Linked DNA regions of Homo sapiens: region 1 is linked to region 2. The links come from fine-mapping of genetic effects on gene expression. A gene starts in region 2. The other region holds a variant in brackets. All regions are shown on one strand. Distances are from middle to middle. Region 1 holds the start of CSF1 (colony stimulating factor 1). Region 2 holds the start of AMIGO1 (adhesion molecule with Ig like domain 1).

Region 1 (5,335 bases), 400 kb after region 2:
AACAAGTCTGTTGGTTTATCTTTCTCAGGTTACTTCCTCTAACCTTTTATCAGTCTTAAGAACTGTGGTGTCAACATGTTATCTGAAATCATTATTGTACAGTGACCATGTCATTGTTGTATCCCCAGGGCCCAGCACGGTGCCTAGCATCTGGTAGCACATATTTGTCAAAAGAACAAAGTATTCTCTAATGGCATCATTCAACTCAGCCATCATTAACTTGGTACCTATTATGTGCTAGGTACCATTGATCCAGAGGTGACTGAGCATGGGTGCCACCTGGAAGAAGTCTCGGTCTAGGGTGGGGACAGAATGTAACCATCGGTACCACCTTAAACACTTCGAAAAGTACTGTGGAGAATGAATGGATGGCAAATGACTTATCAGAGCCAGCATTGAGGAATGAGCCAAGTCCAATGGGAACACAGGAAAAGGACCCTTTGCTCTGCCAGGAGAGTCACAGAAGGCTTTGCTGGTGGAGGATGAGATGCAATTTCAGCCTGAAATGATGAGGAGTTTGTCTTCAGCCATGTGGAGAAAGGAGCATTCCAGGCAGAGGGACCAGTCTGAGCAAAGGCATTCGGGTGTAAAATTATTGCCTAGGATTGGAGTGAAGGATATGTAGCGCTACTGACAAGAGACTCCTCTTCAAGAGCAGGCCACATATCCTTTATTTCCCAGGGGGTGGAAACGGGCAACCTCACAGAGGAATTGAATCATAATGAATTGAAGAAAGAAAAATCTCCTGAAGTTGGCATTATAATTAATAGGCTTAGGCTCATCCTACTAGTCCTCACTTAGACTCATTCTCATGTAGAAACAAAACGTGATTAATCACCTCAGTAAGTGCAATTTCCAAAAACATCCAGGGAAATCTAGGGTCCAGGTGCAGGACCTTTCCAATCTGAGTTGGATTTTGCCTCCAGGAGAGAGCATGGGTACCAGCCAGCATTTTCATCATCTAAGGGTCAGGTGCCTTGAAGTGTCTGCTGGCACCCAGGGAAGAGCCCCCCAGCTTGCTGTCACAGGACACAGCTGCTCCCTTCCTGGCCAGGTAGCTGGCCTCCCTCCCAGAATGGGACTTGAAGCTGGCCGGGCTGCTTGGGGGCTGCAGAGGAAGAAGGGGGCTGCCGGCAAACCTGCTGACTCAGGCTCCACGAGGGAGCAAGTAACACTGGACTCCTTTCGGCACTCCGAGAATGGGGTGGGGGCGTCTTCAAAGGATTTCCCTCCCTTCCCAGTGCTTGTCCCTGCTCTCGGTCCGTTTTCTGCTAAGATTTGGGGATTTTCAGGCCTGGAGGGAAAGTCCCTTGGGACGATCATAGAGCGCTAGCACTGAATCAGCCTGGAGAGCGCGGAAGGAAAGGGTCGGTCCGCAGAGGGCGCGGGGAAGGCAGGGTGGGGACGCGGTGGAGCCCGCGCTCGTTTGCTGAAGGCTTGGAAGTGCAGCGCAGAAGACAGAGGGTGACTAGGAAGACGCGCGAGCGGGGCTGGCCGGCCGGCGGGTGGGGGAGGGGAGGCGGGGGAAGGCGGCTGAGTGGGCCTCTGGAGTGTGTGTGTCTGTGTCAGTGTGTGTGTGTGTGTGTGTATGTGTGTGTCTGGCGCCTGGCCAGGGTGATTTCCCATAAACCACATGCCCCCCAGTCCTCTCTTAAAAGGCTGTGCCGAGGGCTGGCCAGTGAGGCTCGGCCCGGGGAAAGTGAAAGTTTGCCTGGGTCCTCTCGGCGCCAGAGCCGCTCTCCGCATCCCAGGACAGCGGTGCGGCCCTCGGCCGGGGCGCCCACTCCGCAGCAGCCAGCGAGCGAGCGAGCGAGCGAGGGCGGCCGACGCGCCCGGCCGGGACCCAGCTGCCCGTATGACCGCGCCGGGCGCCGCCGGGCGCTGCCCTCCCACGGTAAGCGACGGCCGCGGCGCTGGGCCCGGGACGGGCTGGGGCGGGGGCTCGGCGGCCAGGCGGCCGGGAGCGGCCCCTCGGAGCCGACAGCCTGGGCGCGCCGGCTGCACTGGCCCGGCGTTCCCGCCGCGGACGAACCGCCTTTGCGCACGGACTGGGCCCTGGCGCCAGGGCGGAGGCCGGTGGCGGCCCTGCAGCTGCACCGGGACTGCCAGGCTTCCCTGGGAAACGGAGGGCTGCTCACCCCATTGCACGGAGGGGAACACTGAGCCACCTGCAGGCAGGAGCCCCCGCTCAGCCAGGGTGCCCTGCCTCTCTCCCTACCCGCCACCACCAAGGCACGGGCGGAGTGGCTGTGCGCTGAGTGTGTGCCCTCCCCGGTGGGCACCTTCCTCATCGGCCACACACGTGCTTCCAAGGCCCTGCTGAGGAGTGGGCGCTTCTGGGCAGGGAAAGTTCAGGGGGTCAACCAGCTTATAGAACGCCAGGGACTTGCTGGCAGAGGGACGGAGAGGGGCAAGCCACTGCTTGTTCCAGCCCACAGGCAGGAGCTACGGAGGACTTGGGTGGCTGTTTGGGGGGTGGGGTGGGGGACGGCAACAGCCGGCAAACAGCCCCCCACCCCCGGGGCTGCTTGGGGCTAGCTCAGAATCTCTTTTTCTTGCAAATTCTGGTTTCATCGGTTGGGGAGATTCTGGGCTTTGTGGTGGTTTATGGTGG[T/G]TTGCAGTGCTTGAGGAAAATGGAAAGAGGGTTTGGTGTTGCAGAGCTGTGTCCAGGGGCAGGGTCTGCTCCTGACTGCGTAAGGGACGCCCTGCCCCAACTGTGGCGGTAGCAGATGCAGCCATAGAAAGTGAGGGTGGCACTGTTCATGACCAGTCAGTGGGCTCATAATAGATTTGCTTCTGAGGAGTCCTGGAAGAAAATGAGAGGGGAAACCTGGGGGGAAAAGAGCAGAAAATTATTTGGGGGTAGAGGAGAGCGGGCTGCAGGTGAGGTGAGAGAGAAAGGGAAGAGTGGGTCCACAGAAAGAAAGTGCCTCACTGAGAGAGAGGAGATAGAGTTGAGAGGGGAAGGGAGAAGGGTTAGCCATAGGCAGAAAGCAAAGCTTCGGGGCTGAAGGGGAGACCATGAGGAAAGAAGAGAAAGACAAGGGGGCTGTGTTTAGACAGGGGAAGTCCAAGGGCCCGGTTCTGCCAGGTCTCTCCAGAGGCCTTGTTGAGGGGGAAGATGAAATGGAATAGGATAGGTGGCAGAGGAGGCTGGACAGCTGGACTGAGGTGTCCTAGCATCTCTGAGCCTGCAGCAGAGATTCCTTCTGAGGGCTGCTCCCCAGGCAGAAGCCAGGGCTAGGGGTGGGAGGAAGAGGCAGTCAGAGGAGAGCCTGCCCAGCCAGATGCAAGCCAGAGTGTTAACCCCCCACTGTCTGTCCAGATCCTCCTGAGGCAGAATGGAGGCCCCAGGTCCAGGGGTATCCCCTTTGGCCAGCTTCGAAGTCAGCCTCTCATGTAGTGGCTGCACTTTCCCCACACTGATGCCTCAAATGTCATCAAAGCCAGACAGCCCTTGGGGTTAAGCATTGCTCCCACCTTGCTCTCCTCCAGGGAGGTTGTCTTCCTGAGCGGTCCCTTTCATCCATACCATTCACTCCAGACCTTGAGTGGCAGCCAGTCTGGGGTAGATACACCGTCTAGTGGCCCAGTTTCCTCCAATCATTCCTGAACCTAAGGTTTCTGAGTACCTGGGCCATTATTCCCACCCAGGGCAACCTCCCCAACAGAGCCTGAAGTCCCCCCAGCCCCCGTGACTGCCGTCCCCCTCTTCCACACTTTCCCTCCCTCAGATCAGCCAGGATCCTCACAGTCCCTGTGCTGAGTGGTATGAAACTATCCTTTGGCTCTTCCTTCCATGGCTCCCACCCCTCTCCTGCCATCACCTTCTCCCCATCTTTCAAGGCCTCACTGAGGTCCCTGCTCTCTGCAGTCTCCCTGGTCACCCAGCCAGAGCTGCCTTCTCCTCCCCAGAAGAGCTGGCAAGCATTTGGGCTTTTGGTGATATGTAGATTAGCACATTGTTGTGGGCTGTTTCATAGCCTCGTTGTGTTTTTCCAGTGAGCAACTTATTTGCAGTATTTGTCTCAACATCTGGATTATTGAGGCAAAACCCAGAGTCCAGGATAGTGTCAACCTTCACCCTACCCTGCCAGCATTTCCCTGAATCTGGGGGCATCAGCCGCCAGGAGGCTTGGGAGCTCTCAGGAGGTGACCTCAAGCTGGAGAAAGAAAGCCCAAGAGTCTGTCTGCTTTTGGCTGAAGAAGGAGAGACCTAGGGCCAGGGGTAGGGATGAGGAGACCCCAGTGAAGAGAAGGAAGAGAGGAAGGAAGGGGAAAGACAGGGCATCAGGAGCCAGTCCCATCACTCTGGGGCTGAGCAACTACTGGGCCAGGTAGGTGCTGGGAGAGAAGAGGGGTCTCAGAAAACTTCTCTGCCATGATAAGAGGTGGCTGGCTGGAGGCAAAGCCTGATGGTGCTCAAATAGGCAGGTGCCAGGCAAGGGATGGCCCATTACTGGCACTGGTGCCTCTGATTAATCAGCTGGGCTCCTTTTGAAACACACACCCAGGGCTCCAAGATGTCTCTGGCAAGGGATGAGTTCCAGTGAAACTGAGTTTGATCCCACAGTTTTTCCAGTGGCAGAGCCAGATCTGCATGGAACCAGGTGGGAGGAAATGCTGGGCCCAGGGGAGCTGTCTCTGGCTTGCCATCTGAAAGCCGGTGCATGAACATGAACTTGAGGGCAGTTCAAAAAGTGCTTGGCTCAGTGTTGATGTTGCAGAGACAGAAAAAAATGGGTAGATGCAAGTCCTGCTCTCGAGTTTCCTGTGTCATTAAAATTTAGGCTGGTAGGCACACCATCTGTGTCAGTATTAGTTCAATGTATAGTTAGGTTTGGCTGGCTTAATCTGGGAAGGCTTCTTGTAGAAGGTGACATCTGGGTTGTTTTCATGGGAGAACAAGGTTGTGCTGTGGCTGCTAGAAATCCTGGGAAAGCTGGATTTGAGGGATGCTGTATCCTGAGGTAAGGGGCAGAGCCTGTAGCATTGTAGATATGAGGCCTTTGTTTTTCTGCGTTGAGCAGGGCATGGGGATAACTGGGGAGAGTGAGACCTGGGGAGAAATGACACCCTCTCTGTCACAGACATGGCTGGGCTCCCTGCTGTTGTTGGTCTGTCTCCTGGCGAGCAGGAGTATCACCGAGGAGGTGTCGGAGTACTGTAGCCACATGATTGGGAGTGGACACCTGCAGTCTCTGCAGCGGCTGGTGAGTGTGTGGCCATGCTGTATTCTACCTTCTCCCCACTGGGGAAATGAAGGCAGGAGCCAGGGAGCAGGTCAAAGAGAGCAGTTGCAGGCAGGAAAATAGGGCAGTGCGGGACATTGCTT
Region 2 (5,368 bases):
GTTTCGTGCTGGCACCTATGCTGTGACATGGACCCTTCAGTTCATGCTATAACCCTCTGTGCCATTGGTCCCAGGACAAGGCACAGATACCACATCCCACATTGCTGTTGTAACTAAAAGGCAGCAGGCCAGGCTCCTGCAAAGATCCATCCACCCAGGGCACATCAGGAAAAAGGAAGGCTTTAATGCAAAGTCTTACAACAGCTTTGGGGAATTGTTACCGATTGAGGTCTCAGCCTTTTCCTGACTCATTTTCCAAAGGTTTTCAACTTCCCCAGCTGTGAAGTTTGACTTGCTAAACAAAGAAGATACTACAGCTTTTCCCCAGTGTGGCTCCTGTGGAAGCTCCCCCAACACACACAACATCACAGGTGTGGGTGGGCAGAGATAGAAAAAATTTTTTTTTCTAAATGTTTTTCTCTTAAGGAGCTAGGGATGACCTCATGAAAGTTTAGGGAATCTGTTCTTCCCCTCACTCCTTCCTCATTCCCATCCAACTCAGACATGCTTCTCTTCCTCTACCACACTGAGAATTGGCAGGGCTTTGGGTACGGGTGTAGCATTTGCCTGAGGATTAATATACCCCCATTTGAAAATCGTGGCAGCCACGCCCTGTTTGGGGTCTTGCTCTCTGTTGTACCTGGGACCAATTCCCTTGAGGTCAGGAGGAATCCATTCCCTTGGGCAGCCAGCCCTCTCTTCCATCCCCTCATATCCTTCAGGGGTGCATTACCTCTCCTGGGGCAGAATCTCCCCACCAACCCATCCTGCTCACACCACAATGGGCGTATCAGAGAAGACCGAGCTGACTGATTCTGGATCCGACATCCTCCGTTGGCCCTTGCCTGTGGCCTCAGGCACTGGCAGGGTGTTGCCTGGCTTGAGCTTGCCGTTTTGACCCTGCCCAGGTCCAGCAGGTTCCAGGAAAGCCACCCGCCGGTCAAAACCATCATCTTTGTCCCCACCAGCCATAGGATCATGGTTGGGTGTGGTACTAAGCATGGAAGAGCTGAGGCTGTCTCCTTGATGGCTGGAAGGCTTCTCTACACCCCGGCACCAGCAGCGGCAAGGGGTGAGGTATAGGTATATGAGGACCAGGACCACACTAAGGATACAGCCCACTAGGGTGGTATAGGCTGTGTTGAGGGTGTCATGGTGTCCGTGCAAGGTGAAATTGTGCACTTTCAATTCCACAGACAGTGTCTCATTGAAAGTCTCTCCCATGGCATAGCAGGTATACACACCACCGTCCTCGACCTGCACCTGCTGGAAAAGAAGACTGCCATCCTTAGACACACTCACTGTGCCATTGGTCACCTCATCTAGCACCCGTTCATTACTTGGTGTCACCCACACCTTGGTCATCCCTTGCTGCTTGGTGTCACACTTGATGATCAAGGTGTCACCCAGGTGGGCCTCCCAGGCACGCTCCTTGTACTCGCCACAGTTGAGGAAACTCAGGTTGAAGACATTGTGCAGCTTCTTGGAGTTCATGCAGTACAGATCCTCTTGAAAGTCCATCACGGAGCTCAGCTGCCGATACTGCCAGTGTGAAAACAGCTGGTAGAGCTCACAGTCGCAGTTCAGGGGGTTGTTATGTAGGTACAGCCCATTCTTGATCCAGGCCGGCAGCTTCTGCAGGTCAGGCAATGGCAAGTTCTTCAGCTTGTTAGAAGAGAGATCCAGGAGCGTTAGTTTGGGTAGCTTGGCTCCTTCCTTGACCAGTTCCAGAGGGAAGCGAGAGATCTGGTTCTGGCTCAAGTAGAGTTTCTGCAGCTGGGCCATGTCATCGAAGGCGCACCGGTCCACCGCCATGATGTGGTTATTGTAGAGCAGCAGCACCTCCAGTACTTGCAGGTCACTGAACAGGAACTCATCCAGTGTACGCAGCTGGTTGGAGGAGAGGTCCAGGTAGCGCAGGTTGGGTACCGGGGAAAAGGCCTCAGAGGAGATGAAGTTCAGGTGGTTGTGGCTCAGCAGCAGGGAGTGCAGTTGGGTCAGGCGCGTGGGGGTCCACTCGGCCCGCAGGCGGCTCAGGTTGTTGTGACTGAGGTCCAGTAGTGCTGTGTAACTGGGCAAGGAATGGGGCACATTGGGCAGCTGCTGCTTGGAGCAGCTGAGGATGTTGCTGGCGCACAAGCAGGCGGCAGGACAGCTAACCACGGCTCGGCCAGCTCTGGCCACCTCAAAAAGCAGCAGGGACAAGGACGGCAGCAGGAGCCAGAGGCCTCTCGGGTCACGGTGGGGGTGCATAGTGTCACTGGAGTGGGCGAGGAAGGCCACAAGGAAGATCTGGGAGGAGGTCACCCGGGCATGTTCTGGTGGGGTACGGAAGGGTCACTTGAGAGAAAGAGGATGGGTTTGTGGTCACCAAGGACTCCAGAGGGAAGGACACCCTCTCCCACTTCCCCTCCCACCCTTACCTCCACCCCCTTTGGGCTAGGAGAGAGAGATGCTGGGTAGTTTCCAGGCACTGTGCAGGCAGTGGGCTGTAAATATCGGCCGAAGAGGAGGTGGCCCGAGGGCCTACTGGGCTGGGGTCACAGGGGTGCAGGCTGCAGGTATGCACAGGATGGCAGGGACTGCTGGGAGTCACAGGGATGGCACGGGCAGGGTTTGGAGGTGGGGTCGGTGTGCCTTTTGGGAGGAGCTGAGGGAAGGTCAACAGGGCACCGGGCTGGGTAGGACGCGTCCGGTCGGGGTTGAGGGTCCCCGGGGCCTGTAGGGGCGGGCTCCCCCCGGGGCCTCCGGTCACTGCACCTGCTCGGCGAGGACGTGTCTCAGCCCATGGCCGGTCTGGGAGCTCCGTCGCGGCCTCTCCCGGCGGCGCCTCACCGGCCGGCCTGTCACTGCGCCCACCTTACGCAGGGGCCCGCGCCCGGCACCGTCGCCTCCCGGGGACTTGCGGGGCCCCGCTCCGCTCACCCTGCCACCGCCTCGACCGCTGAGCCCGCCGGAGCCCACCGACCGCGGTCGCTGCCTCCAGGTCCGCAGGCCTGGCGCGGATCGGTGCGGGGAGCCGGAGGCGCAGCGATCCCAGCGGAGGGAGCGGCGTGGGGGCAGCGAGCACCGCGCGCGCGCCCGTCGCCGCCGCCGGAGCCTCGGGGCGCGTGCGCGCGGCGGGGGCGGGGCGCACGTGCGTGTGTTTGTGTCGGAGCCGGCCGGGCGGACGCGCGCGGGGTCGTTCCCTCAACCAGCGAGCTCCGGACGCTGAGCTAAAGACGAAAATTGGCAGGAAGAGCGGCACTGGCCCCTTAGGCTCCGCTATAACTTCCTCCATCCCCCATTCCCCCATCTCCCAGCACCCTTCTCGCTACACAGACCGGCTCTCAGGAAAAGTCTAACTAAAGTGAATTCGCTGCACCTACTCGGGCAAGAGGCGTCACATGTCTTTTAATTTCGCAAATTGAAGAAATCTGGCTCAGCTCCCGCCTGCCAATGTTGGCGGGAAATTCATTAGTCACATTCTGAGGTTCCCCCTCCCTTCTCTCTGTGGCTGTGGGGTCTCAAAAATTGGGGGAGGGGTTCCCCCCACCCCACCCCCGTCTTGATGCTACTAGTTCATGACCCTTGAGGTACCACTGAAGGGCACAGCTCCTTAGCCTGCAAGCCAGCTGCGCAGGAGTGAGGGGAAAGGGGGTGTTTGGTGAGCCCAGGCCCCAGAACACCCCTTTACAGACACCTCATGCACCTCTCCCCACTCCACCTGCTACACACACACACACACACACACACACACACACACACACACACACGGACTGCATACAAGCCAGGGACAATTTCCATTCCTGGAAACTCCGAAACCCTTCCCAGCCCGGAGGAAGTCATTCAGCCCTTAGGTCTGGCCACTTGCCTTCTTCCTAAACCAGTGCCAGCTCCCCACTCCCCTTATGGAGCAATTGCAACATAGTTTCTCTGTTACCTAATCCTCAAGATGAAGGCCAGTGGTGGAGGTGGAGGGGTTTCTTCTTTAGGGTGGCCCCTGAAACAACAAGAAGCTGTTACTAGTGTATGTTGTTTGGGTTTGGGGGTGAGGAAAGAGAGAGATGCAGGAAGAGCCTAGACCTTATCATTCAAGATGTTAGCTGTTCTTGAGATGGTGGACCATAAGAAATTACCTTTTTATTTGTTCCAGTCTCTTATAACAGCAAGATCAAGACTGAAATTAATGTCTCAGTAGATTAGCTTGCTAAGAGTTTTAAAAAGAATTTATATCTGTCACATGTTTTACCATGAATTTTAGTGAATATATTATCTCTTCAAGGAGTATTAGCGTGTTAATCTTATGCATAGTGTGAAAAGGTCTTTCTGCAAGGTGCAGTGGCTCACACCTGTAATCCCAGCACTTTGGGAGGCTGCGGCAGGAGGATTGCTTGAACCCAGGAGTTCGAGAGCAGCCTGGGCAACATGGTGAGACTCTGTCTCTTAAAAAAAAAAAAGGCATGGTGGCACGCACCTGTGGTGCCCACTACTTGAGAGGCTGAGGTCGGAGGATCACTTGAGCCCTGGAGGTCAAGGCTGCAGTGAGCCATGTTTGTGTCACTGCATTCCAGCCTGGGTGACAGAGCAAGATCCTGTCTCAAAAAAAAAAAAAAAAAAGAAAGAAAGAAAGAAAGAAAGAAAGAAAGAAAGAAAGAAAGAAAGAAAGAAAAAAGAGAAAGATGTTCTGTTCTGTTCATTTCAGGCATCATTGAAAAGATGAGGAGGGTAATCTTTTTGGAGGACAAGGTGTGAAGAATCTTGAAATCACATTGCATCAGTTATCTATTGCTGCATAATCACATTACCCCAAAACTTAGTGACTTCCTACAGCAATATACATTTATTGCCTTTCACAGTGTCTGTTGGTCAGATTCAAGAGCAGTCTGGTGGACAGTTCTGGCTTGGCAGTTTCTCATGCAGTTATGCGTTAGATGGAGCTACAGTCATTAGAAGGCTTCACTGGGGCCATAGAGGCTCACTTAAATTCATGTGGCTGGCTGTTGGCAGGAAACCTCTATTCTTATCCATAAAGGTCTCTCCACAAGACAGCTTGAGTTTCCTCACAACACGGTAGCTGACTTCCCTCAGAGCAAGAGATGCAAGAGACAGCAAGACAGAAGTCACAGTGATCTGGCTCTTTGAAGTGATGGATATCACCTCCACTTTGGTCACATATGCAATTCCTGATTCAATATGGAAGAACTACACAAGGGCACAAATACCAGGAAGAGAGGATCATTGGGACCATCTTGGAGGCTGGCTATCACACACATCATCTCTGAAGTTACATCTATTTTTTAATTTTGAGAATTTTCAAACATACACAAAAGTGAATAGTACAATGAACTCCCATATACCCATCACCCATTTCAATAATTATTAAAGA

What was found.
Region 1: its variant is fine-mapped to the expression of AMIGO1 in putamen (GTEx, PIP 0.97).

Annotation. Positions count from the first base shown.
Region 1 is chr1:109,909,169-109,914,503 of GRCh38, forward strand. It overlaps CSF1 (colony stimulating factor 1), which reads left to right and starts at 1,681. Exons shown (of 9, transcript NM_000757.6): 1 at 1,681-1,894; 2 at 5,091-5,213. The coding sequence starts at 1,856. RefSeq lists silencers at 1,775-1,944, 1,995-2,104 and enhancers at 1,890-2,390, 2,391-2,891, 2,968-3,067. The variant T/G (reference allele first, on the strand shown) is at 2,615.
Region 2 is chr1:109,506,660-109,512,027 of GRCh38, forward strand. AMIGO1 (adhesion molecule with Ig like domain 1) reads right to left here and starts at 3,068. Exons shown (of 2, transcript NM_020703.4): 1 at 2,761-3,068; 2 at 1-2,340. The coding sequence starts at 2,253. The coding sequence ends at 772. LOC105378893 (a long non-coding RNA gene) reads right to left here. Exons shown (of 3, transcript XR_001738179.2): 3 at 3,943-3,982. RefSeq lists silencers at 2,672-2,731, 2,742-2,891, 2,952-3,071.